Regions from separate parts of the Homo sapiens genome. Here region 2 is linked to region 1. The links come from fine-mapping of genetic effects on gene expression. A gene starts in region 1. The other region holds a variant in brackets. All regions are shown on one strand. Distances are between the middles of the regions. Region 1 holds the start of SHKBP1 (SH3KBP1 binding protein 1). Region 2 holds the start of BLVRB (biliverdin reductase B).

Region 1 (4,505 bases):
CTTGACCTCCTGGGCTCAAGCGATCCTCGCACTCCAGCATCCTAAGTAGCTGGGACCACAGGTGCATACCACCACACCTGGCTAATTTTTTTTTATTTTTAGTAGAGATGAGGTCTTGCTGTGTCACCTGGGCTGGTCTCAAACTCCAGGTCTCAAGTAATCCACCTGTCTCGGCCTCCAAACTGCTAGGATTACAGGTGTGAGCCACTGCTACAGGCCAGAGTTTAATAACACTGCTATGTTTGGGTTTTATTTTCATGTTTACTTTGTATTTATAATATAAAGCTTGCATTTAAAATGATTATTATTTTTTTAATTAGCCGGGCATGGTGGCGAGTGCTTGTAGTCTCAGCTACTCAGTGGCAGAGCTGAGGTGGAAGGATGGCTTGAATCTGAGAGGCAGAGGTTGCAGTGAGCCAAGATCGCACCACTGCACTCCAGCCTGGGTGACAAAGCCAGACCCTGTCTCATAAAATTAAATAAATAAATAAATAAATAAATGATTGTTTTTCGGAAAACAGGATAAAACTAAGTTGGAAAAGTACTACTACAGATCTTTATATCTGGCAACTTTCATGAAGGTAGCAGGTGCTGACTGCAGTTAGGGAAATAAAGCTGTAGATGAAATTTCCCTACTCTGTTACTTCTACCAATCAGAAAAGCCTAGTTCCAATAACCACTGGGGCATACCTTCCATGGCCAGTGGGCTGGCTATCATGGGCATTACTGTCAATAACTTCCTATTAATATTTCTCCCCTCCATACGAAGAATCCCAGGTCTTCCAAAGCCCCCCCTACAAAGAAACCAAACCCGGACTACAACTCCCATGGGGCTCCAGGACATCCTTCTGAGCCTCAAGAGTTAGCTGGCCCATTGTCTCATGGGAAATGCTGTGTCCAACTTCCTTTCCAAGCATCAGCCCAAGCATCTGATAGGGAACTACACCTCCCACTGTATCTCAGGACGCACAGCACAGGCACCCGAGAGCTGCAGCCTTATGGGAAATGTAGTCTTTGGCCCACCTCCGCGCCCCTCCATTCCATTGGGAGTGCCTACCTGGTGGCGGCAGGTAACCATTGAAGAGGACGTTTCCACAAGAAGATCGATCCAACTCCTCTCGAAGCTGCAGGCGACGAACTGCAACAGGAGGACTTAAAGGCTGGGACTTAGGGAGATGCTGAGGCCACCCCATTTCCCCCTCCCCATTTCTTTCTACACAGAGTACCAATACTCCTCCCAGTACGAATACAGACCCGGCCAGGGCCATAACCAGTCCTCCCACCTCTACCCCAGCCCTCTTTCAGGAGAGAAGGGGAAGAGGGGCAGGTAGCATCACAGAGTTGGTTTTCTATACAATGAGGATGATAGCTGGGGGCTCCCACTTACCCAGAGGAGTGAGCCCATAGAACTGGGCTTCATGGAGGAGGCTGGAACCGTGGACACCCCTGGGTAGTAGAATTGACTAGAGGTCAGGGTCTAGGTGTGGGGGTGAACAGAGAATGCTGAGAGGGTAATTTTCAAAACTGCACAGAGAATGTCAAGGGGTAGAAAGTTTTGATGGAATAAAGATGCTAAGGAGTGATGATATGGGTGGAGGAAATGTTGAGTGTGTGTGTGTGTGTGTGTGTGTGTGTGTGTGTGTGTGTGTGTAGGGAGAAATCGAAGGACATAAAATTTTAACATGATCAAGATTCTCATGAAGTTTTGCCTGTTTGCTTTTTTAGAGAAGGGGTCTCGCTATGTTGCCCAGGCTAGTCTCCAAATCCTGGGCTCAAGTGATCCTCCCACCTCGGCCTCCCAAAGTGTTGGGATTACAGGCGTGAGCAATCCCGGCGCGCCCGGCCTGTGATCAAGGTTCTGAATGAGAATTCTAATAGAATGGAGCTCACGTGGACATTCAGAGGAGGTGAAAGAACTCCTCAGGGACTGAAGACAGTGAGGGACTCCCTCCCCTTTTTCCATGCCAACCTGGGATCCAACTCTTTGGTGCGCAGGAAGTTGAGGATGGGGGCGAAGACTGTAGGGTCCCTGTCGATGAAGATCTGCGGGAAAGGGGGGCAGAGGATGGATGGGGTAAAAGGCAGGACTGAGTGGGGTCCTGCCCCTCTTCCTACCAACCCCTCCCCCCCATCCCATTTCAGTTCTTGTCCGACTCACTGCTCCGGTCTCATCTTTCAGCGTCGAGATGCGTCCGCTCAGAAGACTGCAGGGAAGGGACACCGAGCAGGCGTCACGGGCCGGGGGAGTGGATATTAGGTCTCCCACGCCCTCTCCATCCCTCCTACCCTCGCCCCAAACTCGCTCTCCCGATCACCTGGAGAAGAAGGAGTCTGGGATCCAGGTGAGAGTCTGGCGAGAGGTACTGAATCTGGGCGGGGAAGGTAAACGGACGCAAGAGATGAAGAGGAGCGGGTGAGGAATGCGTCCCCCTCCCGCAGGATCCAGGGTTCCCTCCCCTTCCCCCTCCCCCGGCGTTTTTCCAGAATCTCGCGCCTCCAAAGGGGGGGGGGGCGGAGCAACCCTTGATGGACAGGGATTCCCCCAGGAGAGGCGGATACTCCCACCCCGCTTCCCGCCCCCGAGGATGGGACCTCAGGAGTCTCCCACACTCACCTCTTGCCTCCCACATTCAGATGAATGACTTCCCCGGGAGGCCCCCGACTGGGGACCCCCTCGGCTGCAGTAGCCGCTGCTGCCATGGCCCCCGGGCGAGCCGGCTGGCCCGCACCCACTTCCGGGTGTGCACCCGGACCCCGCCTCCATAGGCTGCTCATTGGGCCAGAGACTCCAGGAGTCACTAGCGATTGGACAGAGCGCCTGCCCATCGCGGTTAACTTTTCCGCCTCCTTAAAGGGGTCCGCCTTTCCTGAACTTGACGGGGCGGACCCGGAGTCTCCTTTGGGGAAGTTTATTACGAAGCATAACGAAATATTCTCCATCCCTCTAGGTTCTCGTCAAGGGGCGTGTGTTTAGACCCCGAAATTAAGTCCACATAAAAGGGTACATCTGGATGTTCTCCGCAGCCACGGTACCCCCGTGCCCCTCTCCCCACCCCGCACCCACCCCTACAGCCACCACAGCCCTCCTTTCAATCCTCCCGGGCGCAGCCCAGAAAACCCAAACAAAGGACCATAGACCGTCAAAGCCAAAGGGTTTATTATAGGTACATACAGTGTGCGCCCGCCACACCGCCCCACACCCCCGGGCCCCAGCGGCTTCTCCAGGCGGCCATGGGGACTGCCCACAACCCAATCCCCCGACTCCCCAGGGAGGTGCTCCAGCCAGAAGCATGCAGGGGTGGGCTTCCCCTCGCCCCTCCCCTCATGAAGTGGCATTTACAACTGGAGGGGGGAGGAGAGAGGAAAACAGTTTTGAGCTTTGACGCCCCTCCCATTAAAAGCCTTCGCGGATGCGGGGCGGGGGAGGAGGAGATCGACGTTTTGCAAAAATAAACTAAGTCAGGAATTAACCGCATGGCTCTGAGGCGGCGGAGTGCAGGGGGCTAGGGCCCCTTCACTCCCCCCTCCCAGACAGAGATCAAGGCAGCATTGGAAGTGAGGTAAAGGCGGGGAGGGGGTGTCCCCTCCCTGCCCCCTAGCACCCTGGATGGTCCAGGGGACCTCACCAGCGCCCCCGTGCCCATCCCTAGGGCAGAGAGGGGGGCAGGAATTACTGCCCCCACCACCCCAGCTTCTTGGGGCAGGATCTGCAGATCGGGGCTGGGGGCTTGGCTCAACTGGCCCCCTGCCCACCCCCATCAAGCTCAGTTATTGCATAAAAATAAGGGACCCCCAGCACCTGGGGTGGGGGTGGTGAGTGGGAAGGGGCCGAGATATGGCTATAGGGGCAGCAATCTCCCCACCACTTCTTGGGGTGCAGGAGAAGTCCCCTCCTTTCCGGTGCCCACCATGTCACGCGTCCTCAGTGTTGGAACTAGGGGCTCCCGCCCCTGCGGAAGAAAAAGTGTCTTTGTGCCCACAGTGCGGAAAAGAGGGGAGACGAGATGTGTCAGGTCCTGGGGGTGGGAAGTCACTTCCTGCGCCCGCTGGCCCTGCGATCTCCGCCTTCCCTCTTAGGGTTGCCCTCATCTGTGGATGAAGTAGTGGGTAGTGTCTGGCCCCAGCGGGCGATCTCTGCGTGTTCCGCCACCGAGGAAGCTACAGCCTCCAGCCAGCCGTTCATCTCCTCCTGGGGGAAGAAACAGGGCACAGAGGCCGTATTTGGAAGAGAGAAGCTGGAATAATAGGTGAATTTCAGATCAGACTACCCTCTCTGAAATTCAGTTTTCTCATCTATTAAAAAGGGATGATGATGATGATGCAGTTACATAGCAATATGTGCCAGGCTCTGTTCCAAACACTTTAGTGGATTAATTCCCTTAAACCTATGCAATAGGATTGTATATACTTCCTACTACAGAGATAAATGACACAAACAATGATAATAATATGGGCAGGCACTACTAGAGCACTGATATTTACTAGGCCCTGTGCTAAGTATCAGT
Region 2 (4,224 bases), 110 kb after region 1:
ATTAGATGTATCTCCTTTACCTTCTGGGCCCCCAGGCCTGATTCTAAGACTAACGGCTGGGCGTGGTGGCTCACACCTGTAATCCTAGCACTTTGGGAGTCTGAGGCGGGTGGATCACGAGGTCAGGAGTTCAAGACCAGCCTGGCCAACATGGTGAAACCCCATCTCTACTAAAAACACAAAAATTAGGTGGGCAAGGTTGCAGGTGCCTGTAATCCCAGCTACTCAGGAGGCTGAGGCAGGAGAATTGCTTGAAACCGGGAGGCGAAGGTTGTAGTGAGCCGAGATTGTGCCACTAAACTCTAGCCTGGGCGACAGAGTAAGACTCCTTCTCAAAAGAAAAAGGAAAAAAAAAAGACTAACAAAGGAGGAAGTTGGGAGATCAATGTCCTCAAAAGACCCAGACAATTGCCAACCCACTGAATTCTAGGAAGGCAGGGTCTAAGTCTTGGTCAGTAGAGTGAGTAGAGTGGAAATTGTCCCTTAGGGGGACACATTGAAATCTTTTTTTTTTTTCTGAGACAAGGTATTGCTCTATCACCCAGGCTAGAGTGCAGTGACACAATCATAGCTCCCTGTAGCCTCCAACTCTTGTGCTCACGCGATCCTCCCACCTCAGCCTCCTGAGTAGATGGGACTAGAGGCAAGCTCCACCATGACCAGGTAATTTTTGTATTTTTTGTAGAGAGGGGGTCTCACTATGTTGCTCAGGCTGGTCTCAAACATCTGGGCTCAAGCTATTTGCCCACTTCAACTTCCCAAAGTGCTGGGGTTACACATGTGAGCCACTGTGCCCAGTCCCAAATCCATTTTTGTTCTTCCCTCCTTCCATGGAAAAGTGAAAGTGAGCACACAGCTACCTACCACCTGTGTGACCTTGGCTGAAATACTTCCACTCTTTGGGCCTTAGTTTGTTCATCTGCAAAATAGTAATGATGGCCCGGCACGGTGGCTCATGCTTATAATCTCAGCACTTTGGGAGGTCAAGGTAGGTGGATCACTTGAGGCCAGGAATTCGAGACCGGCCTGGCCAACATGGCAAAACCCGGTCTTTACTAAAAAAAATACAAAAATTAGCCAGGCGTGGTGGCACGTGTCTGTAGTCCCAGTTACTTGGGAGGCTGAGGCAGGAGAATCGCTTGAACCTGGGGGATGGAGGTTGCAGTGAGCTGAGATTGACTCACTGCACTCCAGCCTGAATGACAGAATGAAACTCTGTCACACACACACAAAAGGGTAGGCCAGGCGGTGGCTCACGCCTATAATCCCAGCACTTTGAGAGGCCAAGGAGGTGGGTGGGTCACCTGAGGTCAAGAGTTGGAGACCAGCCTTACCAACATAGTGAAACCCCATGTCTACTAAAAATTCAAAATTAGCCAGGCATGGTAGCTCATGCCCGTAATCCCAGCTACTTGGGAGGCTGAGGCAGGAGAACTGCTTGAAGTCGGGAGGCAGAGGTTGCAGTGAGCCAAGATCGCGCCATTACACTCCAACTTGGGTGACAAGAGTGAAACTCCGTCTCAAAAAAAAAAAAAAGTAATGATAATCGTACCCGTTTCTTAGCGGTGTTTGAAGAGGTAAGTTATTAATGCAGGGATCATGGTATCTGGTACACTGCAAGCCCTTGATACATGTTCCTTGCTATTATTCTTCATCTTTTCCTCACACATCTCAGCAAATCGATTTGCCTCTTCTGGAGTCAGACAGAAATGAGTTCAAGTTCCGCTTTATTCTTGCTGTATCTTTAACCGAGTATCTTTAACTTGGCCTTTCTGTGCCTCAGTTTCCCTCCCTGTTAAACGGTGGTTACAGCTGTTTTCTTCAGTGGAAGACACTTAGAGATGGGGAGGCCCTTAGCACTCCTGTTAGCCCTCTGGCCAGGCCGAGGATCAGCTCTGGCCATAACGCGATTGAATGGGAAGGAAGGGAGCAGGTAATAGGGAAGCCGGGAAG[G/A]GGTGTCCTGCGAGCCTCCCCCCAACACCCCCCCCCCCCCGCAAAGGCTGGTGGGGCGCTGGGCTGCGGTGGCATCAGAGGCTTTAACCCTTCCCAGGCCGCGCCTCTCTCCCTGCGGTCCAGACACTGCGCCCAAGGAGGGGGCCTGGGAAGGACAAGGCCTGGGGGTAAGACCCACGCGTGGCGCGGAAGCTAGACCGGGTGGGGGGGTTGTGGGCTCGTCCTGCCCTCGACCCTTTGCCTCCCTCCAGCCGGGGAGACCCGGGGCTCCAGCCATGCCCCGTGCGCGCGGAGGAGGGATGCTCGCCAGGTGGGGACATACTTGGGGGAGGGGCTGTCGGCCCCCCTAGCAGCTCACCTGGGCCCGCGGCCGCCAGCGTCGCTGTCTCCGCTGCTCGCCGCGACCGACCGCCCTCCCTGTCGGCGTCCGCTGCCCGGCCCGGCCCGGCCCGGCCCAGCCCGGCTCAGCTCGGCCCCGCCGGCCCGCGGCTCAGCCAGATCCGCATGCGCCGCCGCGCCTCCCTCTCTCGCGCCGCCGCCGCGCTCAGCGCGCCCCCGGGACCCCCTCCCGCCCGCGGTCCCCGCGCCCCGCCGCCCGAGGCCCACGCGCAGTCACACCCGGCCGCGGCGTGGGGTGCACGGCTGCACTCGCGAGGGCACGGCGGCGTCACGCGCTGCACACTCCCACGGGGTCACGCTCGCCACGCTGCCATACTCGCGGGGGCCTCGGCGCACAAACTCACCCCCGCATCCACGCGCTTGCGCGCCGTCACTCCCTCCTGTGGGGTCTCACGGGGTCACACCCTCACGCCGTCACACGCGGCGTCCACACTGGAACGGTGTCACCCACCACCACACAAATCCAATAGGGTAACCACCGCCCACGCGGCGTCACACACAAATGCACCTGTCACACACAGCCGCACACTCCCCGGCAGTCACAAACAGTGTCATAGGCCCACACATCACGCACAGCTTCACAGCCACAGTGTCACACACTCTACACACTCGAACCTTCATAGCAGTCGCCCCGCACATGCTGCACCGCCGCACCTCACACATCATAGTCACAGGGGGTCACAATGAGCAGCTCAACACAGACACCCACAGCCACACACTCGAATGGGGTCCCGGTGTCACACATCCTTACACGAGACATGTGGTGTCACACACTGTCACAGTCTAATTAGTCTCACGCTTCCATGTAGCACACCTCACACGTCCCACACCCTATCGTACAGGCTGACGCAGTGTCACCCACGGTGTCACCACAAGGTCACAAAAGAACAGAATCAATGCCTGCCACACGTGGTGTCACGCACGTGTAGTCACACTGTAACACGGGATCACACTCAGAGGATGACACAAGGTGTCACCCACAGTCCTGCTTGCCCTCCGGGTCACTGAGTCACACAGGGTCATATAAGTGCATAGGTACGCCGTGACACAGTGTCTTACATCCAAGTGCACACACACACTCTGTCCTCCTAACTTTCTCCCCTTGCTGGTTCTGGGAGGCCCTGGGGCTTAGAGTGCGCCCCAGATCCGCTCCAGGCTCCGGGAGAGGGGGCGTGAGCTACGAGAGGCCGTGGGTGAGGCTCGCCTGGCCCCGCCCCTCTCCGGGAGGTGGAGCGCGGAGGCAGGGCGCTGAGTGACAAGTTATCTCGGCTCCGTCCACTCTATTTGTTGCTATGTGGAGGCGTGGCCTTCTGTGGCCCCGCCTTCCAGTCTAAGTGGCGCGCAGAGAGGGCGGTGCTGGACGGTGAGCGAATGCAAGCTGACGCCTGCCCCGCCCATCCGCGTTAGGCCCCGCCCCTTGACCTGAGCCGCGGGCGGAGAGTCTGAGGCGTGGCCCTTCGAGCCAGCTCCGCCCCGTTGTTCCTGGCTTGAGTAGGGCAGAGAGCACCGCCCAGCAGCCAGTGGGTTCCCGCGCGTGCCGAGACTCTGAGGCCTTGCACCCCCACGATCCCGTACGATGGCCGTCAAGAAGATCGCGATCTTCGGCGCCACTGGCCAGACCGGGCTCACCACCCTGGCGCAGGCGGTGCAAGCAGGCATGAGCCGGGGCGGGCGGGGCATGTCACGGGACAGACGGGCAGAACTTTAGGAAGGGGCACCATGGGGTCGGGCCGAGGCTGATTGGGGCCATGAGCGCCCCAGCCAGGTGTATGAGGACTCAGGGGCCAAAGCAAGTGGCCACGGGGGCAGAAATGGGGAAAGATGTGAGATCCAAGTTTATGTGAGTCCAAGCCAGAGAGGAATTGGCCCCGG

The links.
Region 2: its variant is fine-mapped to the expression of SHKBP1 in subcutaneous fat (GTEx, PIP 0.99).

Annotation. Positions count from the first base shown.
Region 1 is chr19:40,575,095-40,579,599 of GRCh38, reverse strand. It overlaps SHKBP1 (SH3KBP1 binding protein 1), which reads right to left and starts at 2,727. Exons shown (of 18, transcript NM_138392.4): 1 at 2,615-2,727; 2 at 2,316-2,369; 3 at 2,159-2,204; 4 at 1,970-2,043; 5 at 1,388-1,446; 6 at 1,058-1,138. The coding sequence starts at 2,700. SPTBN4 (spectrin beta, non-erythrocytic 4) reads right to left here. Exons shown (of 36, transcript NM_020971.3): 36 at 3,136-4,189. The coding sequence ends at 4,031. RefSeq lists silencers at 2,629-2,698, 2,719-2,898, 3,249-3,338.
Region 2 is chr19:40,465,393-40,469,616 of GRCh38, reverse strand. It overlaps BLVRB (biliverdin reductase B), which reads left to right and starts at 3,872. Exons shown (of 5, transcript NM_000713.3): 1 at 3,872-4,007. The coding sequence starts at 3,929. It overlaps SPTBN4 (spectrin beta, non-erythrocytic 4), which reads right to left and starts at 2,616. Exons shown (of 36, transcript NM_020971.3): 1 at 2,312-2,616. RefSeq lists a silencer at 3,458-3,657. The variant G/A (reference allele first, on the strand shown) is at 1,954.